Regions from separate parts of the Homo sapiens genome. Here all the other regions are linked to region 2. Evidence: fine-mapped expression QTL. A gene starts in region 2. Each other region holds a variant in brackets. All regions are shown on one strand. Distances are from middle to middle.

What was found. PIP is the estimated chance that this variant, and not a neighbour inherited with it, causes the effect. A credible set is the group of variants that fine-mapping cannot tell apart.
Region 1: its variant is the best candidate, but not a certain one, in a credible set for the expression of CCDC85A in thyroid (GTEx, PIP 0.65).
Region 3: its variant is the best candidate, but not a certain one, in a credible set for the expression of CCDC85A in blood mononuclear cells (TOPMed, PIP 0.81).

The regions. Positions count from the first base shown.
Region 1 is chr2:56,241,704-56,252,745 of GRCh38, forward strand. The region is part of intron 2 of CCDC85A (coiled-coil domain containing 85A); the gene reads left to right. Among named protein-coding and RNA genes, the nearest start is that of CCDC85A, 63 kb to the left of the region's middle. The variant C/T (reference allele first, on the strand shown) is at 5,993.
Region 2 is chr2:56,179,834-56,190,875 of GRCh38, forward strand. It overlaps CCDC85A (coiled-coil domain containing 85A), which reads left to right and starts at 4,157. Exons shown (of 6, transcript NM_001080433.2): 1 at 4,157-5,067. The coding sequence starts at 4,792. LOC100129434 (a long non-coding RNA gene) reads right to left here and starts at 5,937. Exons shown (of 3, transcript NR_125368.1): 1 at 5,865-5,937. RefSeq lists a silencer at 3,827-4,156.
Region 3 is chr2:56,360,925-56,371,966 of GRCh38, forward strand. The region is part of intron 3 of CCDC85A (coiled-coil domain containing 85A); the gene reads left to right. Among named protein-coding and RNA genes, the nearest start is that of CCDC85A, 180 kb to the left of the region's middle. The variant C/T (reference allele first, on the strand shown) is at 5,842.

The DNA.
Region 1 (11,042 bases), 62 kb after region 2:
CACATTTTCTTCTTCCATTTATCTGTTGGTGGACACTTAGGTTGTTTCAAAATCTTGGCTAGTGTGAATAGTACTGCATTAAACATGGGAGTGCAGATATCTCTTTGATATACTGATTTCCTTTTTTTGGGTATATGCCTAACAGTGGAATTGCTGGATCATAAGGTAGCTCTATTTTTAGTTATTTTGAGGAACCTCCAAATTGTTCTTCATAGTGTTTGAACTAATTTACATTCCCACCAATAGTATACAAGTGTTCCTTTTTCTCCACATACTTGCCAGCCTTTGTTATTGCCTGTCTTTTGGATAAAAGCCATTTTAAATAGAGTGAGATGGTCTCTCATTGCAGTTTTGATTTGCATTTCTCTGATGATTAGTGATGTTGAGCACCTTTTCATATGCCTATTTTCCAATTGTATGTTTTCTTTTGTGAAATGTCTATTCAGATCTTTTGTCAGTTTTTATCTGGATTATTACATTTTTTCCCTATAGAGTTGTTTGAGCTCCTTATATAGTCTTGTTTTTAATCCCTTGTTCAGATAGTGTATTAGGCCATTCTTGCATTGCTATAAATACCTGAGACTGGGTAATTTATAAAAAAGAGAGGTTTAATTGGCTCATGGTTCTGCAGGCTTTACAGGAAGCATTGTGCTTGCATCTGCTTGGTTTCCTCAGAGGCCTCAGGAAGCTTACAATCATGGCAGAAGGCAAAGGGGGAGTAGGCACATCACATGGTGAGAATGGAGCAAGAAAGAGAGAAAGTTGATGGGGGAGATGCTCCACACTTTTACACAACCAGATCTCATGTGAAATCAGAATGAGATTTCACTTTTCACTAAGGGAATGGCCTAAGCAATTCATGAGGGATCTGCCCCATGAGCCAAACACCTCCCACCAAGTCCCCACCTCCAACACTGGTAATTACAATTCAACATAAAATTTGAGTGGGGACAAATATCCAAACTATATCGGGTAGGTAGTTTGCAAATATTTTCTCCCATTCTACAGATTGTCTTTTCATTTTGTTGATTGTTTCACTCACTGTGCAGAAACTTTTTAACTTGAGGTGATCTGATTTGTCCATTTTTGCTTTGGGTACCTCTGCTTGTGGGGTATTTGTCAAGAAATTTTTGCCAGTCCAGTGGCCTGGAGAATTCCTTCAATGTCTTCTGTTAGTAATTTATAGTTTGAGGTATTAGACTTAAGTCTTTATTTTGATTTGATTTTTGAAAATGGTGAAAGATTGAAGTCTAGTTTTATTCTTCTGCAAGTGGATATCCAGGTTTCCCAGCACAATTTATTGAAAAGACTGTCCTTTCTGTGTTGTTTTTTTTTCTCTTGATGTTTTTAGGATCTTTTCTTCATATGTGATCTTTGGGTATTTAGTTATTAAATGCCTTGAAGTAATCTTCTTTGGGTTAAATCTGCTTGGTATTCTATAACCTTCTTGTACTTGAATATTGATATCTTTGTCTATGTTTGAGAAGTTCTCTGTTATTAACCCTTTGAATAAACTTTCTACCCCTGTTTCTTTCTGTACCTCCTCTTTAAAGCCAATAACTCTTAGGTTTGCCCTTTTGAAGCTATTTTCCAGATGTTGTAGGAGTGCTTCATTTTTTTTCTTTTTTTCTTTTTTCTCTTCCGTGTGTTTTCAAATAGCCTGTCTTCCAGCTTGCTAGTTCTTTCCACTCCTTGATCAATTCTGCTATTAAGACACTCTGATGCGTTCTTCAGTATGTCAGTTGCATTTTTCAATTCCAGAATTTCTGCTTGATTCTTTTTATTTATTTCAATTTCTTTGTTAAATTTATCTGATAGAATTTTGAATTACCTTTCTGTGTTATCTTGAATTTTTTTGAGTTTTCTGAAAACAGCTATTTTGAATTCTGTGTCTGAAAGGTCACATATCTTTATCTCTCCAGGCTTGGCCCCTGGTTCCTTATTTAGTTTGTTCAGTGAGGTCATGTTTTCCTGCAGGATCTTGATGTTTGTAGATGTTCGACATCTGGGCATTGAAGAGAAGATATTTACTGTAGTCTTCACAGTCTGGACTTGTTTGTACCTATCCTTCTTAGGAAGGCTTTCCAGGTATTTGAAGGGACCTTGGTATTTTGATTTTGGTCACTGCAGCTGTGTCTGCATTAGGGGACACCCCAAGCCCAGTGATACCATAGTTCTTGCAGACTCATAGAGGTATTGCCTTGGTGGTCTTGGATAAGTTCTAGAATAATTCTCTGGATTACCAGGCAAGATCTTTGTTCTCCTGCCTTACTTTGTCTCCAACAAATAGAGTCTCTCTCTCTTTCTTTCTTTACTAAAGCCAGCACAGTACTGGGTCTTGCCTAAGGCCCACTATAACCACTACCTGTCTACTGCCTATGTTCACTCAAGACACTAGGGCTCTACAATCAGCAGGTGGTAAATCCAGCTACTCTTGTGTCTTTCCCTTTAGGGCAGAAAATTCCCTTGGGCTCTAGGCAGGTTCAGAGATGTCTGGGAGTCAGGGCCTGGAGTTGGAAACCATAGAAATCTACCTGGTGCTCTATTCTGCAGCTAAACTGGCCCTGAAACCACAAGACAAAGTTTCTGCCACTCTTCCCTCCCCTTGCGCCAGCAGAGGAATCACTGCCTATGCCTACCACCACTGCAGGCCCGTGGGAAGTACTGCCAGGGTACCACTGACAATTCACTTAAGGTACAAGTGCCTTTCAGTCAACTTGTGCTGAATGCTTCTAGGCCTGGGACTCTCCTTTCAGGGACTTAGGCTCCCTTCTGACCCAGCGTAGGTACAGAAGTGCCATCCAAAAGCCAAAGCCTGGAACCAGGGACCCTAAGAGACTGCAGGATCCTCTCCCCTACTGTGGATAAGCTGGTACCTAGGCTGTAAGACACAGTCTCCTCTGTTTTTCCCTTTCCTTTCTCAAGCAGAAGGAGGCTCTCTGCAGTCTGAATATGCTGTGAATATGCTGGGTCACATTGGAAGCCAGCACATCTGAGTCTCACCCAAGGCCCACAGTGTGTATTACTTGGTTACTGCTGCTAATTATTCAGGGCTCAAGGGCTTCTTTAGTCAGCAAGTGATGAATCCTGCCAGGATTGAGTCTTTCCTTTGAAGCAGTGGGTTCCCTTCTGGCCAAGGGTGTTTCTAGAAATGTTATCTGAAAGCTAGGGCCTGGAATGGGGGCCTCACAACTCTGCCGGATTCCCTGTTCTACTGTGGCTGAGCTGGTATCCAACTTTCAGAACAAAGTCCTGTTTACTCTTCCTTCTCCTCTCCTCAAGCAGAAGGAAGCGGTCTCTTTTGGAGCTGCAAGCTGTGCTGCCTGTGCTTGTAGAGGGGTGACAGAAGCACTCCCTTAGCCACCCTGACTGGTGTCTCACTAGGTCATGTGCCCCACAAGTCCACTGGCTGTGAGCCCAGCACAGCACTAGGACATGCCCAGGAGTTGCAGTCCTTGTGGTTTAGACAGCCTTTCAAGTTTATTTAGAATCCCACAGTACTTTAGCCTGCAGTGGTGAGGCTTGCTGAAACTCAAGTTCCACCAGCTGGGATGGGTGATTCCCTTCTTTCCAGGGCTGGTCTAAATGCTCCCTCTATGAGCACCAGCTGAATTCTGCCCAGTGTTGGCAGCACTGAATTCCAAAATCCTGCAGTTGCCTGCTCTACCTCCCACAAGCCCACAGATTCCCTCCTCATGCCACATGGCCTCTGCCAGGGGATGGAGGAGGGGGTGGCCTCAGCAATTCAAGACTATCTTTCCTATCTTCTTCAGTGCCTCTTTCAGTGATATTAAGTTAAAACCAGCTACTGTGATTGCTTCCCTGATTTTTGGTTCTTATGAAGTTGCTTTTTTGCATAGATAGTTGTCACATTTGGTGTTCTGCAAGGGGGACCACTGGTGGAGGCTTCTATTTGGCCATTTACTCTGCCTTTCTCTTCCTGCCCATTTTTAAATTGGGTTGTGCTGTGGTTTGAATATGCCCTTCCCAAAATTCAAGTGTTGCCAATGTGATGGTATTAGGAGGTGGGGTCTCTAAGAGGTGAGACCTCTTAATAGCCATGAGGCTATTAAGGCCCTTATAAAAGAGGCTTCATATAGCATTTGGGCAGCTTGCCCTTCTGCCATGTGTGGATGTATCAAGAAGGCCTTCACCAGACCAAATGCCATCTCCTTGATCTTGAACTTCCCAGTTTCCAGAACTGGGAGAAATAAATTTTTATTCTGTATAAATTACCGAGTCTCAGGTATTCTGTTATAGCAGCTGAAAACGTACTAAGACAAGTTATTTGGCTCGCTGCAACCTCCACCTCCTGGGTTCAAGTGATTCTCCTGCCTCAGCCTCCCAAGTAGCTGGGATTACAGGCATGTGCCACCATCCCTGGCTAATTTTTTGTATTTAGTGGAGACAGGGTTTCACCATGTTGGTCAGGCAGGTCTTGAACTCCTGACCTCAGGTGATCCACCTGCCTCAGCCTCCCAAAGTGCTGGGATTATAGGAGTGAGCCACCACGCCCGGCCCAAGTTATTTGTCTCTAATGTTTGAGTTATAGAAGTTCTTAATATAATCTAGATACAAGTTGCTTATCAAATATGACTTGCAAGTACATTTTATCATTCTGTGGATTGTCTTATTACATTCCTGATAATGTCCTTTGAAGCATAAAAACATTTTTTGGTGAAATCCAGTTTTTATTTGCTTATGCTTTTGGTGTCATATCTAAAAAAAAAACCCCACATAATCAAAAGTCATGAAGATTTATGCCTATGTTTTCTTCTAAAAGTTTTATAGTTTTACCTGTTACTTTTAAGATCTTTGGTCCATTTTGAGTTAACTTTTGTATATGGTATGAGGTAGAGTTCCAACTTGATTCTTTTTTTGTGGATATCCAGTTGTTCTGGCACCATTTGTTGAAAAGACTGTCCTTTCTCCATTGAATTGCCTTGACACTGTTTTTGAAAATCATATGACCATAAATGAGAGGTTTTATTTCTGACTCAATTATATTTAGTTGACCTGTATGTTTATAATTAGCTTAGGTTTGAACATCTTATTTTCCAATGCACAGATTTCTTTTATTGATCTTTTCTTTAAAATAAAATAAAGAGCTAAAATTTCACTTGTTGGATAGGTTTCTACCCTGTTTCAGAGGTTGATGGTTTCAGGACTTTTTACTTCTGGCTTCATGGTTTGAAAATATATTTATTTTGAGAAAGGACAGTTCATTCCAATCATCCTTACAATCCAAGTATGTGTGAAGTTCTTGAAGGAGTTGTGATTATTATAATTTTCAACATTTTTCTATGAAAATTCATAAGATTTTCACTCAATGATATTTTTATTATGAAGATTCAGATGTTTTGCACTCTAAATCATGTCCCCTCAAAATGTGGTTATGCTATAGTGCAGGTTCTGCCCAGGAACCAAGACTGTCCTGGATATGTGTAAAGAAAGTGATTGCCCTACGTTAGTAGTGTAATTTGAAGGTAACCAGAACACAGTGGTCACTAGGGCTCTCTTGATATTGGGTTGCAATGAAAATATGTTGCTTGAGAAGAGTAATAGTAACCCTCTCATATCCAGTGATAGTGAATGAAGAGAAATTTAAAGTTTATTTTAATACTTATCTAGATTGCAGACATGGGTCTTTTTTTTTATTCCTGGGGGAAAGAAGAAACACACTTGAAAGATATATTTTCCTTCTGCAATTTTTCCCCTGTATACATCATGCAACTGGCACTTTTCATAGGAGGTTGTTCTGCAATCTTAAAGTAACTGGAGTGTTTTCCTCTAGCTCATTGAGACCATTTAGGCTTTTAATGCAATAGGAGCTCACAGAGCAAAATGGGGTCCTTGAAGCCACCTTGTTTAAAGTTGAAGTGTTTCATTTGAGTGTTTCCAAACTATGTCTTATTTTGAAGGCAACTGATAAAAGTGGCTCCTTTGTGCTTTGATAAAAATGTGAAATGGAAAAGACTAGGCCATGAAAAAA[C/T]ATAAACCTGTAAAAAGATATCATAAGGGATATGAGGGACACAGAAGATAGATGATATATTTTTCCTTCTAATACAATTTTATAAAATACTGCCTTGTTTAATTCTCTCCTTTAGATCACAGGACAAAGAAAAGAATACATTGATTCAAATAAACAAGTGGAAAATTTGAGGATATTGGAATTGGGGCCAATCTTTTGCTGGTACTATAAGCTATTTAGAGAGGCCCAAGCCATTCAGAGAGAAAAGATAGAGTGCTATCAAAATGCTCCAGTGTACAATGGGGAGCAGGGAGACTTGTCAGGGGCCCCATGCTTTACCTGCTCTGCTCAGAGTCACAGAACTTTATCTTTCTCTCTCACTGGATCATTTCAGAAAGTGACAGGGGATATAAGTGATATTACCCGGATGGCTATTTCTAGATGTCTCAATTTCTGGAAGTTAGGATATGTCATTGTGATAAATGCTTCTGCTCTCTGAATATTCCATAGAAACATTGGCGCTAGAGAAAGAATATTCTGCCAGCCATCAGGAAGGATGATAGATTTAGGATGGAAGATGTATTCTGGGGTTGGCTGGCTCTGGAACGGTCTCCCTTGGTTGGGTCTCCAGCCTTGCTTACTTCTGTTATGGGGAAGCCCTGGCATCGTAACCAGGGGCCAAGTGGAGCGGTGTACTCAGATGCTCCTTGTACCAGTATGGCCTGCCCTCACAGAGACAGGGAAGCAGACAGGCCCTTGGTGTCTACCCACCTCCCTTCCTGTGCTGTCTTCTCTGCCTTGTGGCTGGCCTATCTCCGGAGGCCTCAGTTTCCACTCAAAGTCCCTGGCATCCTAGGGCTCCCACTGTGGCAATTGACTCAGTCCTGCCTGGGGTGCTTCTGTTTTAACAAGTGGCTTCCGACAAGGCAGAGGCTCAACACAAACGTAGCAATTTCAGGCAATAGTGGAAGTCAGAGTGAGGAGTTAGGGCATGGTAATTGTAAATAACAGTGGAGACAATAGTAAGTTCATTTTTATCAAGCACTTTACGTGGCAGGGCTGAGCTGAGTGCCACCTACATGATTTCAGTGTCAGGACACTGGTCTGAACTGGGTTTCATTAGAATCCTCATGGTGAGGAAGCCTGAAGAGGGAAGGTCACTGGCCAAGGTCATATGGATATTGATTAGAAAAAATGAGAATTCATGTCAGATAGTATGATGCCAAAATCCATACCCTTAGCTACCATAGTTGTCCTAAAGAGCATATCAGGGAAGTGCCTGTATTGGCAAGAACAGATGGGGTTCTAGAAAAGGTTAGGGCGGGACTGTGACCTTCAGTCAAGGAATGAATGCAGCCCAAGATGACAATGGAGGGAGGAAGTCCAGGAATAAATAGCAGGACCTTCTCTCTTCTTCTGTCTAATATCCTGCAGATGCTTGCCAGTGACTGAGCCCAGTGGGAAGCTAGCGGTCTGGACAATCCATTGCTGTAACTCATATAGATCAGAGCTGCTGGAACAAGGGGAGGAAGTGGCTGTCACTATAGGAGCAGGGCCGCCAGACATGAGCTCTGCCTTAGGCAGAGGGATGTACCAATGCCAGACCACAGACTGCATTTGGGAAAGAGGAGGAAACTCCCTTTACTTTCTGTCTTTCTTTGCTCCCATCCCTTGCCAGGGACACTTATTGGCCATGCCCAGTGAGATGCTAGAAGGCAGGGAAGCTGGTTTGATGCAGCCTCCTGGAGTACAGAGCAGGAGGGTAGAGTGAATCTGAAGAAGCACATGAAAACAATCCCATACAGGGCCTATATGTGAATCTGTCCCTGAAGAACAGCCTCAGAAGACACACTGTGGAAGCTTTGAGGTCACTGGGTCATTGGTCAGCAGCTTTATTTAGATCAGCTGCCTTTGCGTATGCAGCATCTTTCATTGACACAGAAACTTGACCTTGTTACATATCAGTTTTCTCTGAGCCTTCACGAAGTAGCTTTTATCAATTTTCTTTGCCTTCTAAGTAAAAGCCAGCAAATTTGCAGAGGGGCTGGTCTCCCCACATCTGGTTATCTGTATATTTTGCAAATTCTTGACCTTGAGTGGTCCTGGCATGTAGTTATTCCTCTGTGTCTACACCTGGGCCCTGGGGCATTTGTGTCCTTCAGATGCCCCTTCCTCTGATAAACTTTCTGAAGGTTCAGCATTTTCTGTGTCCCATTAAAATTTAATTTGCTGTAACATTGCCAGGCCCTGCCATAGCTATATTTAAATGGCTTCATTGCCTCATTCTTTGCATTGCCTCTGCTTTTGAGGATCTTGAAATGGTAAATGTCTTCAGTTGTGCCAGCAGCCATGAAGGGCAGGCAGGGGCTTTGTAGATGATATCTGTGTACTTATAGGTTTTGCTCCTCTAAAACGTGTAAGCAAGGACTGTGAGGTTATTGTGAGAGTGAAGGGCATGGGAGGAGCATTTGGGTACAGCAGGAAGCATTTGAAAACAAATGTTAATTCATTTAAGAGTTTGGTGCCTGTTTAATTTTTGGTAAGCCCACTTAAAATATAGTAAGATTTTAAGTTGGAGTGCTTTTCCAAGCATGAGCAATAAAAATGTGCCCTGGACCCTATGCTGTAATTGGCACAGAGACTGTAGTGGAGTTTTACCCTTTGTACCCAAGCCTGTGTCTCTGCAACCTTTGGAAAATATTCTTAGTTTGAAGTTAGAAAACAAAGTAAACTGTCTGCTTGAACATTGTTGAAAAAGTTATTGTACTAGCCTATCAAGGATAAGATGATACAAACCAGGTCAGGGGAAAGAAGTTAGGAAATGCCTAGTGACATCTGTATGGTAGTCGGCTTACCTAGGGTAGAAGCTCAGTGAGAGAGAGAGTCGGGAGAATAGGAGGAGACAAGGGCAGGACATTTTGGGTTTCCTGAGAAGCAGTGGTTGGCAATTTCTCTCCTGAGTTTCCAGAAATGACATATTATAGGAAGGGTTGCAATGTGATTCAAATTGCTAATGTGTGCTTCTTGAAAAAATATCAAACCACTCCCCCAAATTGAGGTATTTGGTTAATAAACAATCAAGTCTCTGTTCATTGAGTTATCATTTGTCATTGCTAGAGTTGATCTATTGAACTAGAGCAAATTGGGGAATATTAGAAGTACATTTGAAAGACTTTGGATACAGTTGTCTCTTACTGTAAATGTCATCTTTTTTTTCTTTCTGTCATATTCCCAGTACCCCTCTCTGACCTCTCTTCTTTGCTATTTTGTCTTTCATTCGAGTCCCTTTCTATTTACTCTTTTTCCTTCCATTTTAGTTTAGTTCTGTCTTTTGTGTGTCTGTGTTTTCCATTCATTTTATACGTTTCTGGTCTGACACTTTATTACCTAGTGTTGTCTGTGCTGTATGTTTCATCAGTTCTTTCCTCCCCCAGAGGTATCTCCTGGGATCTATAAATAGTACTGCAACAATGTGTTGGTGAACTTTGGGTGAACAAAGGGTATGGGTCGCTTTAGACCTTTCTTAAGGCAGCCCTGTGTTGAGGGCTCTGTTTTCTCCTGTAGGCAGCAAATCCTTTGTGAGCCCAAGTTTGCCCAGTGCCTGGTATATATTAGGTGCTTAGTGAATATTTGTTGAACACATGGATGTATTATCTGAAAATGTTGGGCCCATATGAGTGGAAAATAAGGGTTGCTGTTTGGGAAAAAGTTGACGAGTTTCATGTGAGTTTTCCTCTGGGAATAGTGGCCTTGCCAGTTTGGTTGCTGTTTAGTCTTGACACTTTCTTCTACAAATGCTTATTTTCTGTGGGTTCTGCTGTTTCTTTTTCCTTCTCTATTAATAAATATTGTTTGTATCATGTTGCAACCTCCTCTTTGGCTTAACCTCCCTTGGTCTGTGTTGGTGGTGGCAGGGTCTGTTTGCTCCTTCCTTCATTGCTGTCTCAGTGGCAGCTCCTTTCTTCTTCTTTACCTGCTCTGCCTCTTCTTGCTGTTCCTGTTCTTATTATTGGGACTCCTTGTCTACTCTCCCTTCTTTGGTCCTTTTACTGATTTTTTTTTTGCCTTCTTGAGCATCATGGGGCTTGGTCTTTTTAGGATAAGGACCAGGAAGCTCTGCTGCACTACTCCAGGATGGGCACTGGAAGTGAAAAGAACCCTGAACAAGTGGAATGCCCGTAGCAGGAGAGAAGGTGGCTGATTTCTTTTTTTTCCTTTGTGTTTATTTTATTTTATTATTATTATACTTTAAGTTTTAGGGTACATGTGCACAACGTGCAGGTTTGTCGGATAGTCTGTGCTATTCAGTTTGACCTAGTCTTTTATGTCTCTGTGGGCTTCATCCCCTCATAGTTTCCCTGGCTGTATCATCAACTATTTTTTTTTTTTTTTGAAATGGACTCACACTGTCCCCGGGGTTGGAGTGCAATGGCTCAATCTTGGCTCACTGCATCCTCTGCCTCCCAGGTTCAAGCGATTCTCCTGCCTCAGCCTCCCGAGTAGCTGGAATTACAGGTGCCTGCCACCATGCCCAGCTAATTTTTTGTATTTTTAGTAGAGACAGGGTTTCCCTGTGTTGGCCAGGCTGGTATCGAATACCTGACCTTGTGATCCACCTGCCTCGGCCTCTCAAAGTGCTGGGATTATAGGCGTGAGCCACTGCGCCTGACCTCATCAACTATTTTTTAAGTACTTAACTAGGCCAGGTATTGTAGGGTCAATGACAGGGAAACTCAGCCTGCTTCTGTGGAGCTTAGGCTCTCATGGGGGTGTGTCAGATGTTAATCAAATAACGTAAAATTGCAGCTGTGAAAATGCATAGTACGTAAAAGGAGAATTGCACTATGATCAGGCTGCTCTGGGTATTTTTTTTTTAGGTTTATTATACTTTAAGTTCTGGGATACGTGTGCAGAATGTGCAGGTTTGTTACATAGGTATACACGTGCCATGGTGGTTTGCTGCACCCATCAACCCGTCATCTACATTAGGTATTTCTCCTAATGTTATCCCTCCTCGGGCCCCCCCGCCCAACCGACAGGCCCCAGTGTGTGATGTTCCCCTCCCTGTGTC
Region 2 (11,042 bases):
TGGAGCTGAAAAAGTAAGCAAGCATCAGACTGTGTCCATCTTACATGCTCTGCTAAGAAATGTAGCTTCACTCCACAGAAAGGTGCTGAGATGCCCCCAAAGGGATTTAGGCAGGGGAGTTGTATCTGCTAACTATTGCATTAGTAATGCTGCACAATAAATCTCCCCAAAAGTCGGTAGCTTAAACAACAGTCTTGTTTTCTCACACACAGATCTGTGAGTCTGTGAGCATAGCTCTGCTTCATGCTGCAGATCTTCAGGTTGGCTGGGGTGGCTGAGTGTGTGGCTCAGACTGAAGGAACAGCAGCTACCCAAGGTTAGCTCTTCTCCTGGTGAAGCGTGGAAAGAACAGACGGGTGAGTGGGCAGACAGACGCCTTTTGAGACCTCTTCAGAGAAGGGGTACACTGTCAGGTGCACACACATGCGTTAGTACAGCAAGTCATATGCTTGCAATATGATTTTCAATACCAGTAGGGAGGGGAGAAAAACTGCCCCCTGTAGGGGAGGTGCTACAACATCACATGGTGGAAGGTGATGTTAATTTTTTTTTTTTTTTTTTTTTGAGACAGAGTCTCGCTATGCCGTCAGGCTGGAGTGCAGTGGTGCTATCTTGGCTCACTGCAAGCTCCGCCTCCTGGGTTCACGCCATTCTCCCACCTCAGCCTCCCGAGTAGCTGGGACTACAGGTACCCGACACCACGCCCGGCTAATATTTTGTATTTTTAGTAGAGACGGGGTTTCACCGTGTTATCCAGGGTGGTCTAGATCTCCTGATCTCGTGATCCACCCGCCTTGGCCTCCCAAAGAGCTGGGATTACAGGCGTGAGCCACCACACCTGGCCGATGTTAATTAATTTTGTAGGGAGGTTGTGAAAAATTATCAGCAATAATTCAATCTGTCTCAGGGGTAAAGTAGCTAGACTTGACTTTTTGAGATGATTCACTTGGGAAGTTGTGTGGAAAGCAGATTCGAGAGAGGTGATGCAGTAGTCAGAGGGACCAGTGAGAAGGGCCAGGTGAGACTTAGTGAGAACCTAGGCTGAGTAACAGTGAGCTGGGGGGAAATAGAGTTGACTGAAGAAAATTATATGATATAAAACCATCAGGACTAAAGACGTAGGGTCATTTATGGCTGGTTTTCAGAAATCTCCATTTAATATACCCAACTTAAAACACTGTCCTAGCTTCCCTTGCAGCTGGGAGGTGATTATATGGTAAGCTCTGCCTATTAGAACATAAACAAAATTCACTGGGTCAATTACCAGGATTTTTTTTTTTTTTTTTGAGACAGGGTCTCACTCTTTCGACCAGAGTGGAGTGCAGTGGCACGATCCTGGCTCACCACAACCTCCGCGTCCCAGGCTCAAGCGATTCTCCTGCCTCAGCCTCCCGATAGCTGGGATTATAGGCACGCACCACCATGCCCAGCTAATTTTTGTATTTTTAGTAAAGATGGGGTTTCACCATATTGGCCAGGCTGGTCTTGAATTCCTGACCTCAAATGATCCACCTGCATCGGACGCCCAAAGTGCTGGGATTACAGTTATGAGCCACCGCCCCCGGCCACCAGGAAAAGTTTTTAAAGGGGCATGTGCCCCTTTGCAGTTGTTATTACCTTCTTCCTGCCTTACACGTAGCTGGATGGCTAGAGTTCCACCAACCATGTTATGGACACGAGGCAATCATCCCAAAGGGGACTGAGCTGAGAGAAGGAGCCTAAGATTTTGACGACCTCATGAAGATACCATACCAGCCCTCAGCTGCCTCTCTTTAGAATACCAGGTAGGTGAGAAAAAATAAATGACTTTTTTAAAGTGACTGTTTTTTGAGTTTCTGTTTTTAGCAGTCAAATGAAGCTCCTGACACCATACATGACCTTAGCAACATGAAGCAACATTATTCATTCATGCAGATAATTATTATTCTGAATCAATGACCAAAATTAGAAACATGAAAACCTTAAGGTGATCTAGCTCAACTGTAATCCACTGCTAGTGTATATAATTTGTGGAGACTTTTTTTTTTTTTTTGGCTTTCCTTCTTCCTTGTCTTCCCAACACAAGTCTAATTTTTCCTCTCAGCCATCTCTCTGATTTCTCATATCTATTTGGTGTTAACTGATCAGAGGGAGTTAGCAGAGAAGGGGGCTGGCTGTTTCATTTTAGAATACGACTCTTGAAGAACCCGTGATGGAGGAATAAACAGAAGTCCTGGTTCCTATTTCTAGACAAGAGGCTGCCCAATGTAATATGTAATATCAGTAATAGTAAGGTTGCATTTCTGTAGGGTGGCTCGATCAAGCGCTTCTTGTATACCATATCATTAGCTGCCCGAGGGCCAGTAAGGTCGGATGGTTTGTTCAAGGACAAGAACTAACAAGTAACAGAGATAGGACTTATCTTTTTCTGACCTTCACTTTCCCTTTCTGTGACAAAACTGGTCTTAGGAACTGTGTTGAGCAGAGCCTTCTGTGGGCGTGAGAGCGGCTTGGAGGTGTCAAAGAAAAATTGCATCCGATATAGTTAAACAGACAAGGGGGAATTATTCAAGGCTATTGCAATAGGGAAGAGAGAGAGGGAGGGAGAGGGGAACTAGTAGAAGACTAGTGGAGGAGATTAGGATGGGAAGTTGGTCAGTGTAATGAGGCCATTTGTGTTTCCTAATTGGAACTTATTAAAGTTAGGCTCCTCCTCTCCACAAACACTAGGAGATAGGGACCCTTTTTTCCTTGATGATTACATTTCAAAGGGATGCCTCACAGATCCCTGAGAAAGATCCCCAGGCTGTAAAACCCAGCAAGAGGCGGAGAGATTTACATGTCAAAGGGTCAGAGGAAACATTCACCAATGGAAGTTGGCTAAAGTAAATGCTCTGAGAAAAGGAAGGTCTGGGGCCTACAGTTAGGAAGAAACCTGTCTAAAGTTTAGTTAAGCTGAGGGGAATGTTAAGGCCATTTGGTCACCGTAAGCAGTACCACATTTCCTTGCCTCTCCCGGGAGCCAGGTCTCAGTGTCCCCAATAGGGGACACGCACTGACCGGCGGGTGAAGGGACTGATTTTGATTATCATCCTACCAGATAGAGATTATTCCCTCTGCACCCGGGTTAACTGAAACCCGGTGGGGGTAGATCCTTGCCATTTTCCGGCCCTGTACCCCACTGGAAATAACATGCGGTGGTCAAGGGCATCCACCTCTTTAGGCAAAAGCATGTTTTCAGCCCAGAGACGATTCCACCCAACTTTACAAGAGGATAGCCCAAAGATAGAAGCCAGGGACTCAGACTTCCTCCTTCCAGAAATAACCATCATAAAAAAGCCGACCCAGTAAACGCCTGGCAGCCTGCGGCATAGAAGAAAATGGAAATCTCCTTGGCTGGCATTTCAGCTTGCCTGAGGGGGCTTGCTTTGCTCCGAGGGGAGGTGACTGTGCTGACCTTAAAATCCAGGTTTCAGGAAGCAGGAGATGAAGGTATTTTATTTTCGCCTAAAGGCTTTGATATTTTTCAAATAAAAATTTAAAAGATCCAGTACCTTCTCCCGAAGCTTCTTCATAGAGTAGTGGATTTTTAGAAAACACAAAGGCCTAGGGGTGGGGCGAGAGTGGGGGGTGGGGATGGGTAGCCCCATAAGAGCAGTGCCCTGACGCCTCTTTTCGCCCTTTTCAGACCATTTGGATTTTCTTAAGCTGCCCCTTTCCCCAACCCCCGTTTTTGCCATTTGCCTCTCCTCCCATTCTCCAAAGTGCAAATAACTGGTTATCCCTCAGGTCCTGCTACCCCATCTTTCCTGATCCCCGATCCCTCCAAATACGAAGCACCTCGCATTTGGGTCAGCAGCTGTTTCCCCTGCCTGGTGACAAGGCCGGTGTGCAGAGGGCAGAGGAGGGAGCTTCTTCCGCCACACGGTGGCGCGCGCGAGCCTCCCAAAGACCGGGCGGCCACAGCTCCTCACCTTCTCCCCATTCCAGCCCCACCCGCCCGGGCGCAGAAAGAGCCGCGCCCCCAGCCCTCCCGGGCAGGACAGCCGGGAGCGCACCTCGAGGGCCCGGGCAGCGGTCGAGTGGCAGCTGCGTCCAGCCCATGCGGGAGCTGCTGCGGGTTACGGGTGGCCCCAGCTCCAGGCTCCTCCTCCAGCCGGTCCCCCACCCTCCACCCCTTCTCGACTCCGCTCTGCAAATCGAAGGCTTTCCGGAGCAGCCTAGGAGCGGCCGCGGGCGCAGCGAAGGCGGCAGGAGGAGCGCAGCAGCCTTCGGGCAGCCGCGGCGGCGTCGCTAGAGCAGCCGGGGAGGCGCCGCGGTGCCCGGCGCGCCCTCCAAGCTAGGAGAGGGGAGAAGCCGGGGGCTGCAGCTGGGCAAGGGGGAGGAAAGTGCGTGTGCGTGCACGCCTGTGTGCAGGGCAGAGAGTGCGGGGGGCGACAGTCTCGGCTTAGGGCGGAGGAGAGGGCAGGGGAACGGCGGTGCAGCTCCCCCGCTGTCCCCGAGGATTTCCCGCGGCAGCCCCGGGCTCCCCAGTGCCCCTCACCATGGACTTGCGCGGAGTTGGGACGGGCCTCGGCAGCAGCAAGCGGCTGGCTGCCGGGCCCTGGGGGAGCGCGGGCGCGCGCGCGGGGATGGCGAGGTAGGATGGCCACCCAGCGCGACCCCCGCCGCCCCAACCCAGCGGCCCCTGGGCGGTGCCGCTGACTCGCCGGAGCGCACAGGGGTGTGGGCGGAGGCGGCCTCGCCGCGCCCGCGCCTTCGGGAGTCGCCTCGCCTCTTCCACCCACTTGCACCTGCCACCCCGCGGATACCATGTCGAAGGCGGCCGGAGGCGCGGCGGCGGCTGCGGCGGCGGCGGAAAGTTGTTCCCCAGCCCCGGCCGGCTCGTCCGCGGCCCCGCCCGCGCCGGTGGAGGACCTGTCCAAAGTGTCGGACGAGGAGCTGCTGCAGTGGAGCAAGGAGGAGCTGATCCGCAGCCTGCGGCGCGCCGAGGCGGAGAAGGTGAGCGCGATGCTGGACCACAGCAACCTCATCCGCGAGGTGAACCGCCGCCTGCAGCTGCACCTCGGCGAGATCCGCGGCCTCAAGGTGAGCGCGGGCCAGGTGGGGAGGCGCGGCGCGGCTGGGAGCGGGGTGCCCCGAGGAGGAGGCGGGGCCAGGCAAACTTTCCCTCCCTCCCTCAACAGGTGACCCTCCCCTTCTCCCGGTCGGCACCCCCTACCCCCAGTCCCCAGCCCCTGTGTAACTTTTCCAAACTTCGGAGGCGTCTGCTCCCCTCCTCTCCCCAACACGGGGCGCTCCACTGTCTGGCTGTTCGGGGAGGCGCTGAGGACGCTGGAAAGCAGGGAGGGAGGTGAAGGGCACGCGAACCTTTCATTTCTTAGGGAGGCTGGAAAATCTGTGCCTGGGGAGCCGGGTTTCAGTCAGTTAGGCGGAAAGGCCAGTGAGGGGGTGAATCCAGGGGATCTTCGCCTTGGAGGGTCGGGAATGCGGCTGCTCTGGGCCAGCAGCTCTTGGGCGGGCAGAGGGCGAGGAAAGGGCGCCACTGCCAGGGAGAGCGGCTGGCGGGGCGCCCGGGAGAAGCAGCGGGCGCCACCCTCAGAGCAGTCTTGTGTCACCGGGTACATAGGAGTTCAAGCTCTGCCTTCACGTCTTCTCCCAATTCCTGTGCTTTCCCTCTCCCGGAGTTTGGAAGGCATCCCCTGGAGTTGCCTTACTCCCCTTCCCACTTAACCCCAGGTTGACTGGGGGAAAGAGGAGGAGCAAAGAGACTCAGTATGGAAGGAGCAGCATTTTGACAGAGTACCCCAAGTGTTGGTCAGTGATGGTTTCTTTCTGAGCCAGCCCCCCTGCCACCCTCTTCTAGGAAAAGAAGGGAAACGTACCCCAAGCCCACTAACTTTCTTTTCTCCTTGGAGAGCGCCGGGTCTGCGAGGAGTGTGCCTGCCCAGCTGCAGTACACTAGTGGCCGGGAACCGCCCTGCTGGCGAGCACCACAAACTTCCTCTCCTTCCAGCTAGCGCTGGTGCCTCCTGGTATTCCTTCCTCTCATTGTTCTGCTTTGTTTGTAGGAAGCCAGACACAAACGAAATCACTGCAGGGACTTCAGGGAGCAAATTCCCGAAGGCACAAGCTGTTCTTTTCCCCTTTCCACTCCTATCCCCACATATCAGACAGTAGATGCTGTTCCGGAATTGCCTCAGTGCTCCAGCTCTGGGATTCTGGGGCAAGAAAGAGTGGGAAGAGTGGAATGCTCAAGGCTCACCTATGTGCTGGGCCCAGTTCAGGTGGAGATGGCCGTCTCCCGAGGCCGAAAGTCATTGTCATATAGTCCCTAGAGTGGGTGCAGGTAGGAAGATTCCTCCAGTCAGAAAAATGCCAAGGCTTACTCTCTCCTGTGGTTGAATTCATTACTAACAGAGTGTTTATTAAGTGCCAGTCTCTTTGGGGAATAGAGGCAGGCTAGTGTAGTAGGAAGATGATCTCAGAGGTGGGTTTGAATTCTAGAAACCTCATTTGCCAGGAGGGTGAGCTTGGGTAATTACTTTCTCAGATCCTCCTTTTATTCACCAATACAATGCAATGATAATAACTTTCTGAGGGTGTTATGGCAATAAGTTATGATTATGTAGGGGAAGGTTTAATACTTGACTATAAAATGGTAGTTACTGTCATCAGGAAAGGACTTACAAATCTATGGCTGTGTGTCCCCAAGATTTTGGTTTCTTAGGCAGAGCTGGACAAGGGGGCATTAGTTTGTCATCCTCTAATTTGAGTTTCTTCCATGGTCTGAACAATAGTGTGATTTAGAAGAGTTGGAAGAGTTATTATTAAATGTTTTAATAGTATGGAGCATCAAAATAATAGCTCAGAAACACTTGAAAGTTCCTTTAGGTTATGTGGATTGACTGTGTGTGATGTCTGTGTGTGGGTAGGGGAGGGGAATGGTAGAGTGGGTTGGTAGAGTGCCTGGGCTTCATTCCAGTAGCTTCATGTAGAGAAGTAGCTATTAGGTCAGCTAAAGGCCCGTACACCCAAGTAAGAAAGTCTCCTTGTGATCTAGATTCATGACCTGGCATTAAAAGACTTGCCAGTCTACTTCCTTATCAAGTTCAGAAATGATGGGGGCAGGTTGCTTTCTGATGCAGCTTCTACTCTTCTCATGTCATCCCTGGGCTGCTGCAAGGAGCGGACTCCCAGGCTTCTGGCCCACCCTGGGTGTGCTGTGGTTTTACTCTTTGGAGAGGCCAGCCTTCTCCCTTCTCTTTTTTATTTTGGCTCAGAGCTTCCTTGGACACCATAGTAATCCATAAATGTGGTTGATTGAATAAATGATGGGTACATATATTTATTTTGGCTTAACTGGAAGAAAAGAAGTATTTTTTTTTGTTAAGGGCGTGGGGGAGCGTCTGAGGGCTTGGCATTCTCAGTTGAGAACTATAAATGTAGGGGAATTAAGACCATAATACATTTTCTTTTTTATGCCTCTTTCTATGAGCTGACTTTGAAATTGCATCTAAATATTTGTAAGGCTACCAGGTGTTATTGTAGCTGTGGACACAGGAGATGGCAGCATCAGTTCTTTACTTTTCAGGGGCCTGTGGCCGGGTCCTAGCACTGATTGACTTGTTTGTGTTTAGATATTTGGGAGGCAGGGCAGTGCAGGGGCCCTGAGAAGTGGAAAGATAAAGAATTTGGATTCTGATAATTTGGGCAGCTTTGGCCAATTGTTAAACTCTCTGTCTCTCGGTTTTCTCATCTGCTCATGGGGATTTTAATTCCACATGAGGTTTTATGAGGATGAAATATACCATAGATGAAGAAACCCCAGTGAAGTTAGATAGTTTTCTCAAGGTCACACAGACATAAAGTGTTCAAAATCGGCCTGCTTTCCTTTTCTTTTGGCTAGTTGACATTCTTTGCTTAGAATGTGTGGTCCTGGAAGGGGTGGATGAGGGAGATTCTAGTTAGGGTTATGTTGTAAGGAACTGGATTCCTGAGAACCATGTCTTTGGACTGCTGAGCATATACCAACACTTCAGGCTGCTCTGACCCAGTATCCCAGTTGGGGGCTGATTCGGGATGAATCTCTGTAGATTTGTTTTCTTCATTGCATTAATTTCCCTCCTTGGTTCCTAACCCAACCACCGACCCGCCCACCACCCTGCTCTGCAGTGAAGCAAAATAACAAATTAAAACAATTATTTAACTGTAGATACAGTACTTGATAGTCTTCAGGCATAAGATTGAAATTTTGGTTGGTGTGCTACGAAGTGGACTTAACCTTTTAAAAGTCCACTTAGACACTTGGATAATTTCTGGTGGCCGGTGGCAATGTTAAAAGGACACCTAGTGTTTTGCAAAAGAAAGCCCAAGTCTTAGTGAGGCAGATTTGAAGAAGCTGGATCACAAGGTTATTATCAAGCTGGCTGCTTAGCTGTTCATCAGAAGGCAAAGGAAATAGCTCAGAACTGAATAGTAAATAATATTCTCAAGAAAACTAATAATAGAAAGAGGGAACTGTGATATAGAAATGGGAGTGGGCCAATACTCACTCCTATCTACTCCATCTGGAGTGCTGAGAAGTGTATGTTTCACTCCTTTTGGAAAAGGCATTAGCTCCGTGAAGCCGAGGGTAGCACCAGTCCTGTTTACTTTCCAGCTCTAGAGAAATCAGAAGTAGCTGTAGCATAGTCAAAGGGAAGTATTTTCCTATGAAAATTTGTTTAGATGAAAGAGAACATGACTTGAGCTTTCTATCAAATGCCAGGATTAAACTAAATGTTGAATAATTTTTGGAGCTTAGAAAGATTAATTTTCTTTGTTATTGTTTTCTCCAAATATCCACAGCTTCTGATTTCCTGTAAAGCATCAGTATCAAGGGATAGTTTATTTTCTTACTACTGTAGGCTCTGACATAGCTAGTGCTTGCTGAAAACAATAAGAAATTCTTCTCAGTAGCTATAGCTGTAGCCTGTTTTGGCCAGAGGCCTGGAGCTTTATATGGTTGATCAGTCCATAAACACATATTGAGTGTCCACTGTATGCAAGGCACCATGCCAGATATGTTGCATATTCAAAGAAAGACTTTTGGAATAGACCCTGCTCTCCAGAAGCTAAGATGTCCACATTAGAAAGGAGAAAAAATTGATGTCTAGTGATTGTTCTAGCTAGAGTGTGATACAGGCCTTAAACAGTGAGTGGGAAAGTTACTTCATTCATTCATTCATGGGTACTTTTCTGTGCCGGGGGAAACTTCTCAGAGGAATCTCTCCTCTTAGGTTCATATGGGGTAGAAGATGATATTTTCTAGTTGGAATGCACAGACGTAATCATAGCTCATAATTAGCTGGCAACTAAAGGTGGAAAGGCAAGGGACAGCCTTTCAGGCCTGGCTGAGGGTCTTATTCATTTTCCCTGGCAAAGGAAAGGTGATGGGGATTGATAAACAGGAGAGGCAAAACATGCACGGGGTATTTTTGGTGTTTTTTTTTTTTTTTGAGACAAGGTCTCACTCTGTTGCCCAGGCTGTAGTGTATCGTGATCTTGGCTCACTGCAGCCTCCTCCTCCCTGGTTCAAGCAATTCTCCTGCCTCAGGTTCCTGGGTACCTGGGATTACAGGCACGTGTCACCATGCTTGGCTAATTTTTGTATTTTTAGTAGAGACAGGTTTCACCACGTTGGCCAGACTGGTCTTGAACTCCTGACCTCAAGTGATCTGCCCACCTCGGCCTCCCAAAGTGTTGGGATTACAGATATGAGCCATTGAACCCAGGTGTTGTTGTTTTTTGTTTATTTTAAATTTCAACTTTTATTTTAGATTCGGAGAGTACACTGTGTGATGCTGAGGTTTTGGGTATGATTAATCCCATCTTCCAGGTACTGAGCATAGTATCCGATAGTTTTTTAACCCTTACCTCCCTTCCTACCCCACTAAGAGCCCCCAGTTTCTGTTGTTGCCATCTTTATGTCATGAATAGCAGGGAGTATTTTTGAAGGTCTGATTGAGGAGTGCTTGTGTTCTAGTGGGTGAGGGGAAGGAGTGGATGGTGCAAACAAAGGCAGGGAGGCTGCCTGGGAGGCTGTTGGCAAAGGTCAGGCCTGAAAACAGAAAGTGGCAACGAGAAGCAAAAAGGAGAGGTGGGAATTAGAAGCAAAGGAACAGAGTTGTTGGTGATGCCAAGAATTAGAACTGGAGTTAGAAACTAAGCTGCATAAGCTTCTTCCTAATACCCACAAATTCACTCCCATGACTTTAGGAAGTGGAGGATGTGGTTGACAGGTGTTTTATAATTTGTTTTTTAGTCTATGTTAAGGGCAGTGTTGAAATCAGCCTGAGTGTAAGTGAATTCAGCCCCCTTTCTGAGTACCTCTAGTTCTGGATCGGTTCGCAAGACCAAAGATTTTTCAGGCTTTTTGAAGCAGTGAAATCTTAGGTAGCAGCCCTGTAGCTGCCCCTGTTTCATCCTTACCAAACTACAGTGCCTCAAGGAACTGCTGGCTCCTTGACTGTATGCATAAATGGAGAATAGGTGGGAACTCTACTAGTCATCTTAAAAATTCCTTGGCTTCAGGTATTTGCGCAGGGAGTGCTGTGTTCTCCATACACAGAAGTACATAGATGAGGTCTCTGTTCTTGTGACTCTAGAGAAGATGTAGTCTAGAATGAATGGTCATACTCACACATTTCTTCTTACAAATTGCAGTAAGTCTGAGGGATGATGGTAGACCATAGATTGGGGGTGGACCTTCTATAGAATGGTGTCTATGGGGAAGTGACTTATAAAATGAGACCTGATGGTTGTCTAGAAGGCTGGGGAGAGCATTCCAGGTGAGAGGGAAAGGCCTTGCCCTTTGAGGACCTGAAACACAGCCTCAGTGTGTGATGAGGAGGGGTGTTCCCACCTTCTCCACTGCTACCACACGTCCAAGCCACCATCATCTCCCTCTACCTGGACCAGCCCAGGAGCCTACTTGTTAATCTTGCAGCTTCCACTTTATCCTGACCCTCCCTTCTTTCCTCCCCTACCCCAGTCAGTCTGTTTTCCACACAACTATGGAG
Region 3 (11,042 bases), 180 kb after region 2:
TGCTTTTCTTAGCACAAGCAAAACATCCCTTAAAAATAGGGAGTAGAGGCCAGGCGTGGTGGCTCACGCCTGTAATCCCAGCACTTTGGGAAGCCAAGGCGGGCAGATCACAAGGTCAGGAGATCGAGACCATCCTGGCTAACATGTTGAAACCCCATCTCTACTAAAAATGCAAAAACCTTAGCCGGGCGTGGTGGCGGGTGCCTGTAGTCCCAGCTACTCGGGAGGCTGAGGCAGGAGAATGGCGCGAACCCAGGAGGCGGAGCTTGCAGTGAGCGGAGATCGCGCCACTGCACTCCAGTCTGGTTGACAGAGCAAGACTCCGTCTCAAAAAGAAAAAAAAAAATAGGGAATAGAATTTCTGTAGGTCATGGAAGGCTGATGGCTAGCATTGGCCATTCATTTAATCTTTTACCCCTTGAATCTTTTTTGAGCATCTCTTATGTACAGATACTGTTTGAGAATACAGTCTTAAATAAGAGAGTTAAGGCCTCTGTCTCATGCAGCTTACATTTTAGTAGCTAGATTATTATTTTTAAAACCATAAATATGTAATACATTACCCAAAAGAGGTAATCACTATGAAGAAAATAAAAGCAGGGCATAGAATAAGAGAATGACTAGAGTACGATAATATTTAGAAAAGACCTCTCATCTGAGGAGACTTGAATAAAGGAAGTATGGAAAAGAGTATTCCTGGAAGTGGGAACAGCAAGGATATTTCAGAAAGAGGAACAATGCCAATGTGGCTGGAACAGAGTGGGTAAAATGGAGAATAAAATGAGATGAAGTTGGAGAAACAGGAAGACCCTATGTGCTCTGTTGACCAAGCTCAAGCATGTGGATTTGGATATGAGTCGATGGAATGCTATTGGAGGATTTGGGCAGGGATGTGATATCATTAATTCACATTTTTGAAGGATCAGTCTCCATGTTGGGTAAACACGAGACTGAAGAAGGTAGAGACAGGGAGAGGGGACATTGGTACACTCATTAGGGAGCTAGCTTGGTAGTCTAAGAGAGCTGAGAGTGGCTTGAACTAAGTGGTAGGGTGGAGATGGTGAGGAGGGGTTAGACTCACAGTGTGTTTTCAAGTAGAGCTAAGGGTGCTTAATGATAGATGGAATGTGGACTGTAAAGGAAAGGGACTGCATACGGCTTCATAGGTTGGGCACTGACAGCCCCAGAAGGAACTACTCACAGAGACTATGCAGTGAATGGCAGCCCAGGGATGGTACAGAGTGTCAACCCTGGGAAGAATTGAGGATGACTTCTTGGATTTTGATCTCAGCAATCATATGATTGGTGGTGCTGTTTACTGAGATAGGCAAGACTGTGAGGAACAGGTTAGGAGGTGCAGGGGAATCAAGTTCTATTTTGGACATAGTCAATTTGAGGTGTTGGACATCAACAAGGAGATGTCACATAGTGTTGGATGTGTACATGTCAAACTCAGGTGAGATATCAGAGCTGGAGACAAAAAATTGGGAAGAATGAAATATATATATATATTTTAACTATGGGACTGAATGGGAACTTCTCATCAATGAATGCTGAGGGAAAAAAAAGAAGAGCTTTGTGGACTGTATCCTGGATACCCCAAGATTTAAAGATGGAGAAGGAGAGAGGAGCCAAGTGTAGACTGCAAAGAGAGACCCAATTAGCTTTTTTTTTTCTTTTTTTCTTTTTAAGATGAAGTCTCGCTCTGTTGCCCAGTGAAGTCTCGCTCTGTCACCCAGGCTGGAGTGCAGTGGTGTGATCTCAGCTCATTGCAACCTCTGCAACCTGGGTTCAAGTGATTCTCCTTCCTCAGCCTCCTGAGTAGCTGGGATTACAGGCATGTGCCACCACACCCGGCTAATTTTTTGTATTTTTTTTTAGTGGAGACTGGGTTTTGCCATGTTGGCCAGGCTGGTCTCAAACTCCTGACCTCAGGTGATCTGTCCCCTTGACCTCCCAAAGTGCTGGGATTACAGGTGTGAGCCATTGCTCCCGGCCCCATTTAGCTTTTTTAGTCTCCCAGAGGTATGGATGATTTTGGGACTTACTTCAATGGACTGACTTTGCAAAGATGTTTTATATTTTGTTTTAACTCTCTGTGCCCTAGACTTATCCTTTTGAATATGATTCAGTTAAATGAGTGTATATATAGTTTGAATAAAAAAATCTTGTTTTCCATCGTATTTTTTTTATAAGAAGGTAGGGCACAGATAAACATATTTTTAAAATCTCTTTGTTTTCTTCCTTTCCAGTAAGAGCTGTTTGTGACAATAAGAGCTCATGCTTCCATGATGCTTCCTTTTGTGCTTTGATGATGGTCTCGCTGATGGTGGATTTCATTTTTCCCTGCCAGAGATATTACTACTACCAATTATGCAAAGGCTACACTGCCTGGATTCTGGATTCATTTTGGCTACTCTCGTTTCTGTAAACATTTAAGCATAAGATCATTGCTAACGCTCCATGATAGATCTTTCAGCAGGTGGCATGGGTAGACCTACAGCCTAACTGGTAGCTGTGTTTGTTTGTATTATTGTATGTATCCTAGATAGGTAGCTGTAAGGATACATACAAGAAGCTGACTCTTCTTGCTTCTCTATTGACCTCTCTCTTGTCTTGACTTTCCCATTTTGCATGGGAGCTTCATATACTAGAAGATTCATCAAAGAACCTAAGACCCTTCTTTTTGCCAAAGCTAGGGCAGCAAACACCACCTCACAGTGGAATATTTCTTAGTCAATTCAGCAAATATTTATTTTAAGTCACTGTTTAGTTCCTGGGGCTCTAGTTCTGTGCATGTGTTCCCCTGGGCCCTGATAGCATGCTGAGGTGTTTAACACAATTATTAATCGGCTCTGGTCTGCAAGTCAGATGCAATGTTAATTAGCATTACTTCTTTGCCATTGCATCCATACTGGCAATTCAGCTCCATGCCCTTACGCTCCGTGTCCTACTTGTGCTTTCCTTTTCTCCCTTTTAAAAAATAAGCCCAAAACCTGAAAGTATTCAGATATGTTCTCAGCAACAATGCCATAACCTTTTACTATTTAATACCAGCCTGATTGAAAAGCAATTTAGAAGTATCAGTCTTTTTCTGTAGGAATTTCAGTGTTTCTCACTGGGAGTTCTATAGTTAATAAAAGTCAAGTATTAAGCATATAGACTCATTGCCTAGAAGTAGTTGCCTATGTTTCCTAGGTATTGTTTAACAGCCTCTTTTTCTTTTTTTCAACCAGGCCTTCAATGTTATTCTTTATCTGCCGTCACTCTGGCTACAGAGACACTGGGTGTTTTCTGTCTTAGCCCTTTCAAAAGATATTAATTCTTTTCTTCCTGGGGTTTGCCCTTTGTAATTTTTGTAAAAAGGCATCCTGCTAACCTTCTGTAATTATTACTTTTATTTCGTTTTATTTTTTCTGGGAACTATATTTCTGTATCTGTAAGTTTCACCTGGAGGAACAGGTATTTCAAAATTACTTTCTTTTCCTTCCAATAACATTTTATTGTTTGCAGAGATATTTTCATCAGTGATACAGTGAGCACTGCATGAAGTTAATATCATTTTAAATTTAAATGTTTTGCAAACTCTCTTATTTCACATGTCAGGAGAAAACCTTTTGGAGGGTATTCGTGACAAAGAATGCTTGAGGGCTTTGCATTATTAATCACTTCTTTGATCTTGATTTTAAAAATCTGATGAAAGAGTTAGATCTATTACTTCCCCCGGTATTTTCTATGCTGGTTAATAGCATGACCATTTAGCGAGTACCTAACCAGAAAGTTGATAGTCATCCTGGATAACTCCTTCAACCTCACTGCCTACATTCAAATAGACATTAAAGTTCATAGGGTCTTGCCCTCTAATCCATCAATATTGTCCTTTTAATTTCTTCTGCTATTTTCCAGTGTAGGCAATAAGTAATACTTTTTTTCCCTTCAAATTCTTTGTTGATCTCCTAATTGGAACTTCATCCCAGGTAGTCTGGCCTCACCCAAATCATTCTCCACACTATTACCAGATCAATCTGTCCACCACCAATCAGTTTCTGTTACATCTGTGGCTCCACATAGAATAAATTTCAAATCCTTCTTACGGCATGGGAGATTTCCCATGCAACTCCTGCATGTCATGTTGGACTCAGCTTTTGCTACTCTGGGCCTCATATCCTGTGCTCACATCCTTCTACTACAGGAAGATAGAACTAATTTTATTTTCCTGAACATGTCAGCAGCCTAAGATTTTTGGTTCTCTGAATTGAAGCTGCTTACTACGTCCACTGTGACTCCACAGACATCAATCTCAGCCATTATTTGGCATAATAAATGAGGGGTGTGTGAATTAATATTACTTTCATTTGTTTATTAGGATAGATACACATTTTATGTAATGGTTGCAGCCACAGTTATGTGCCTGGAGTGGAGAAGGTCAAATGAGCACAGAGCTGATGTTAATCTGGTGTGTAGCAGTTCATCTGTATCAGTTATTCATATTAACATGCTTCTAATCCAGTTCCTTCGAAGGCTGCTGAGCTATTCCAACCAATCTGACCCTCCCTAGGATCATCTGGATCTCTCTGTAACCCAGGAGCCAAAGAATGAGTGCATAGACTAGAAGGAGACTTCTGGGACCCAAAGAAGGAAAAATCACTCTGGGGTATAAATTACTGAAAACATTACCAGGCCCACAGTTAGTATCTTTAAAAAAACTTTTTTTACATTTATAGATAAAATTACATCTTTACTGTGTACAACATGATGTTTTAAAGTATTAGACATCGTGGAATGACTTAATACAGCTAATTAACATATACATCAGTTCGCATAGTTATCATTTTTGGGTGAGAACACTTTACATCCACTTTCTTAGTATTTTTCAAGAATGCAATAAATTATTGACTATAGTCACCATGCTGTACAGTAGATCACTTGAAATTATTCCTCCTGTCTAACTGAAATTTTGTATCCTTTGACAGACATTTCCTTCTCCTTCCCAATCCCCTCAACTCCTGGTAACCACCTTTCTCCTCTCTAAGTAGAAATAAACTTTTTTTTTAAGATTTCATATATGAGTACGATCATGCAGTATTTATCTTTCTGTGCCTGACTTATTTCATTTAGTGTAATGTCCTCCAGGTTCATCCACGTTGTGACAAGTGACAGGATTTCCTTCGTTTTTAAGGCTGAATAGTATTCTGTTGTATATATAGATAGCACATTTTCTTTATTCATCCATTCATGGACACTTAGGTTGTTTCCATATCTTGGCTATTATGACTAATGCTGCAGTTAACATGGGAGTGCAGATATCTCTTTGACATACTGATTTTGTTTAATTTTAATGTATACCCAGTAGTGGGATTGCTGAATCATATGTAGTCCTACTTGTAATTTTTTGAAGGAACTTCATACTGTTTTCCATAATAGCTATACTTATTTGCATTCCCACCAGCAGTGTGCAAGGGTTCCCATCTCTCCATATTCTTGCCAACACATCTTTTGTCTTTTTGATAATAGTCATTTTAAAAGGCATGAGGTGATCTCATTGTGGTTTTAATTTGTATTTTTCTCTTGATTAGAACTGTTCAGCATTTTTGCATAAATCCTTTGCTATTTGTATGTCTTCTTTTTAAGAAATGTCTATTCAGGTCCTTTGCTCATTTTTCAATTGGGTTGTTTCCTTGCTATTGAGATGTTTGAGTTATTTCTATATTTTGGATATTCACCCAGCATTTTAGGAACTCACATTAGCCAGTTTTATTAATCTTTTAATGGACAGCACTTAGGGTAGTGCTAACGTGGTAGGAGCTTAGTGATTGAGAGCTGTTATGTCAAAAACAGGCC[C/T]TCAAGAAGTCCTCTGCCTGCCGAGGAGTCTGTACATAGGCTACAATCCTTCACCACATGTGACGCAGAGAGTAGTCGCCTCCTGGTCCAGATTTCTCCTTCTTATTTCTTTCATCTTTTATGATTTAATCTCTCTTTTATCTTTTTATCTATTTAATCTTTTGCCATTATCTTATAATGCTTTCATTAGCACTGAGATGTGTTTCATGTGTCAGGGCCCCCACTTCTATTTGCTGGCAATTTTATTCTTTCCTAATGTGACTGCTTCAAGTTAAGTGCAGAATCTTTGCCCAGCAAATTGTTAAGTAAGCTTTATGATCTTCCATAATTTCCACAGAGCCCCTTCTGCCAATTGTATTCTCTATGTGGGACTGGTGTCACGATTTTCTAGGTACTGTAGCATACTATATGTCTCTATCTCAAGAACTCTTTCCTTTGGACCACTGCCCTGTGCCTGCCCACAGCGTATTCTCTTTCTGCTAGTGTTGTTACAGTAGGATGATATGGGTATTTTCAATTCTGTTTCTTTTATTGGAGTAATTTCTTATTTGGGGGTGGAAATGTGGCTGCCTTTATACTTAGACCATTTGAGGGCTGAAGCTTAAGGAGTTTCCTTCTAAATCCTTTCAAGCTCCAAATCCTGTGGGCAACATGTCCTCATATGCAAAATCTGCTATAGAGCTGTCACCAGAAATTTTGCTTTGTAGTTTCCCAACATAGTTCTCTTTCTCTAAATCAGGGTTTCTCAACTTCAGCTATAGCGACATTTTGGGCTAGATAATCCTTTCTTTGTGAGGGGTCTGTCCAGTGCATTTTAAGATATTTGGCAACATCCTTGGCCTCTACCCACTAAATGCCAGTAGAAACTGCATAGTTTTGACAAGTAAAAATGTCTGCAGGCATTTTTGCCAAATGTTTTCTCTTGGGGGCCAAATCACCCCCGCCCCCAATGAGAACTGACACTCTCAATAATAAACATTCGGACATAAATTGACAAGTTATAAAATATGTTGACAAGCAAAGCAAAAACATTCATGATAAGGACAGCAAATGCTTATAGAGCACTTATGTGGGCCAGACACTGTTTTAAAAGCTCTTTCCATGTAAGTTTCCAAGCCCATAGAGTGACCGTACCATTTTACCATTATTATTTACACTGTATAGATGAGGAAACTAAGGCACAGAAAGGCCATATAGCTTGTCCAAAGTCATGCAGCTCATAAGTGTCAGATCAAGAATTTAAACTCCGGCACTGCGACCCTGGAGTCTGTGATTTGAACTCACTGTGTTTCTCTTTCAACAAAAATTCGTTGGAATAGGTATCTATATGGCATTGCATGCAATATCACGTCTGATAGTTACTAAATTAATGTTTGTTAAGTGAATAAATGAATGACTATACATCCAGGAAATTACTTATTATTTTACATCAGCATTGAATAGATTCTTTAGTTAATTTAAATGAAAAATGCACTTTTCTTTGGATATAACCGACTAAATATTAACATTAGAGTAAGGCAAGAGGGTCTTAGCATTTCTAAGCCTATGCACAAGAATCTCTTGGAGAGGGTTTGCCAAGGTGACCTTTAAAATCTCTTCTAATCAGAGCTTTTATTTATTTGCTAGGACAGTTTTACAATATGTCAGAATGAAGATTGGCCAAACTGAACAAAATATTATTTCCCTGATGAGATTAAGCAAAGTATCTGCCTTGCCCTGTAATAAGGGAAAACTGAATTTATCCTCCCCCTTAAACTAGGCATACACTCTGATGAGGTATTAAATATTATATGATAGTTTAACCAAGTTCAGGAATTATAAAAAATTAAGCATCTTTAAGTAACAGGAAACCACTTTAGCTGATCAATCTTCAGGCTTCCGTAGTTGGCCTTCTATAGTGAATGAGAGGGCTGGGGTCTCAAATTTGTTATAAGTGCATTACATCTGATTTATATCAAAGTGAGAAACTATTTTATGTAACACTACAGTATTACTCTATTGAATGTGAGTTTTAGTCAATTGGAAATATTTATATAGTACATATATATTTTTATATATACACATACATATGTACATATATGTATATGTATATATTCAATAAGAAACTCAGTATATTTGTTTTCCATTTTTCTGGCGTGCAAACAAAACTTTTTTTAGGAAGAATTTTCATTAAATTAAAAAATTTCCTTGACTTCATTACTAATTAAAACATTATAAAGGATTTTTCTAGGAGCTTTATTTTTTAGGTAATTTTCCCTACTGCAGAGATCACACATCAAATTCTGAGTGATCATCGTTTTGTGATTCATGTATTTTAGATAACATATAATATTGGACATTTCTTAGTGTTTTTCATTATTTCTATGAGGAACAGTAACACTTAATTCACGCAAATTTGAGAAAAGAAACACGACAGTGTAAAAAAGTTAAATGGTCTATTTTTTTGCAAAATTGGTTTTTATTCCCTTCATTTACATATATAGCTCATTGTGAGCAATAAGGGAAAGATAAACTATAATGTCTTAGAGAATGTTGTACGTCTTTAAATAAATAGATGAGAACTATTTATTATTAGAATGGTCGTAGTTTGAAGAGAAAATGTTGCAGATGTAGTTGTTCAAAACTTCATGTTGATTTCATGTTTAAGTACAGAGAATTTTATACCCTGTTGAAGTTTGAAGAACTAACCAGAATCTGACCCCGAAAGTCCTGAGGACTAAAGGCTATGACTCATGCTAAACCCATGCAAATGTCCATATGTGAATTCATTTGCCCATCTTTATGCCTTTCAAAGTCAGCAAGGTAAAAGTCTTCAAGTCAGGCTGACTTATTCTTCTTAGCTTAAAACATAGGTCACTTCATACTTTATTACTGAGGTTTCCAACAAATAGTTCTTGGGGACTTTTTCTGTTCATCATTCAAGAGGAACCTTTATGTGTGTCTGAAGTTCGCTGAGATGCCTGGTGAGTGAGAAGTACAGTTCGGATTTCCCATTTCCCCCTTTTTCTTCTTTTCAGTACTTGATTTTCACTCTTCTTTCCTCCTCACAAATTTTTGAAATACTTCGTTTTCTGAAAAACCCTACACTATTACCTCTATAGAAGTTTCCAGAGTTTTCAAGGAATAAAAACTATTGACTAGTACAGTTATAGCGAAACTTAAAGAGACTCAGTGATTCATACTTCTTCATATTCTTTTATGATTTCTGTGAGTACTTACCACAGAGTAAGTAATCTATAATTTACTTCTCACACAATGGGAGTGTTAGGGTCATTCAGGGATTCTTTTTCACAAACTTGGAATTTTAGAAAACTACAGAAAACAAAACTAAGTGAAACAGAATTCCTCAGAAAATAGGAAGTGACGATCTTAAGACTGTTTGGAATTGTTCTCCCAATTAGTGACCAGAATCTGAGTTCCACCATTTTGAGCCCCCAAGTTGCCAGAAACAAGTTTAACGACTGAATTACTGAAGGCTTCTTACGTTTTATGAAACTGTCTTCAGCAAACACTGTAATTGGTGATTGTAGGCCCTGCGAAACACTAAGCCTTCATTAGTGTATAAATACCATTTTGATGTAGTTTATTTGAAAGTTAATGATGATGGCTGGCCCAGAACACACTTTTCTATATACCTAGATTAAAAAAATATATATGCTGACATGGGGAGAAAATTAATTAATCCTGGTTCTAAAAGAGTGCCTTTTCCTTTAAAATGGTTATATCATCAGTTTATTCTTCCACAAAGATCTGGCCCCTGTTTATTGTTCCCCCTTATGAGATTAATAATACTATAAAATACATATTTAATATATTTTAAAGGAACATTTTATAATACTTAAAGTATAGCTATTGTTTTATGTAGTATCTACTTTCTGAAAGTTGGAAATTATTGTGAGTTCTCTACATAGTAGCTAAATGGCGCTCATGCCAGCTGGCTTCTAAGTTGGCATAGATCCTACCTTAGATTTCATGGGTATGATGATAAGCTTTGTTACAATGGAGAGGAATTGGGATTTAGCCTTGCTACACATTAAGAAAGAATGAAAGTAGAATGCCTATATGTTTTACTCAGTTGTTAAATCCAAAAAGGATAAGATCTGAGAGGTGCATGTTATGGAAATAATCAAATTCAGATACTAGATCTCCTTATTTGTAAAAATAATTATAAAATTTGCATTACTCATTAATGATCATCTCAGAAATAGAATTATGCAGATTGGGGTGGGAGGTGAGTATTAAGCTGTGAATCATGTTATAAATTTTTGGAGATAATTCTTTTGATGATGGAAACAAATTAGACACTACACATGGACTAATTATCAAAAGAGCAATGTTCAAATTAATGTTGCTATGATGAAATTATCATTATGACCCAAGTGCAAATATATAATTGCCTCTGTTATACGTGAGAAGTAGAGTATGTGTGACTTATTTTTATAGGTCACTGGTGCCAATTTAATAGGTTCAGAAAAGAGTTTTGTGAGTACCAACTACTGGTCATTATTTCTTCTCTTTCTTACTTCACTTAAGACCATGGTGCATTTTCTTTTTTCAACCTCCAAAAGTTAGAGAAGAGTGAAAATTGGACCAGTACTATTCAGATATAGGCCGCTAACTTCAAAAAAAATGAATTGATGAGAATTAAAATTTTATGTTCTTATTTTCAGTCTTCTAAAGTCAACCTCAACATTTAGACACTAGAATTTTGGGACCATTTTGCGTATTTTCCATAATTAAAATTATTAAATTATTAAAATTATTTTCTTATTCCTTGGGACATTATATTCTTAGTTATAGGTCTCTGTGAAAGTTGGCAGGAGAGGAAATCATGTTCTAATAAGTTCATTTTGTTTCTGATCATTTTAATAGGATTATACAGTTTGGTGATGGAAAAAGCTAAAATTAAGGACTTTTTTCTTTTCAATTATGTGATGCCTCTAGTTCTAATAAATACATAAAAATTTAGTTAACTTATGAATACAAAGTTTGATGATTATGTAGATTTTTCTATGTAAAATATTTATTTTAATGCAGTGATGACCTTTTAGCTCATTACATTCTCTTCAACATGCAGAAATTTTGTTAAAAATTTGATGCAGTTTTAATTTTCTCAGTATTATTGAATATGTATACCCAAATTTCACTTCTTAACAAAAGGGCATAGTGCTCCCAATTGTATTTCAAATAACTTTTGTTAA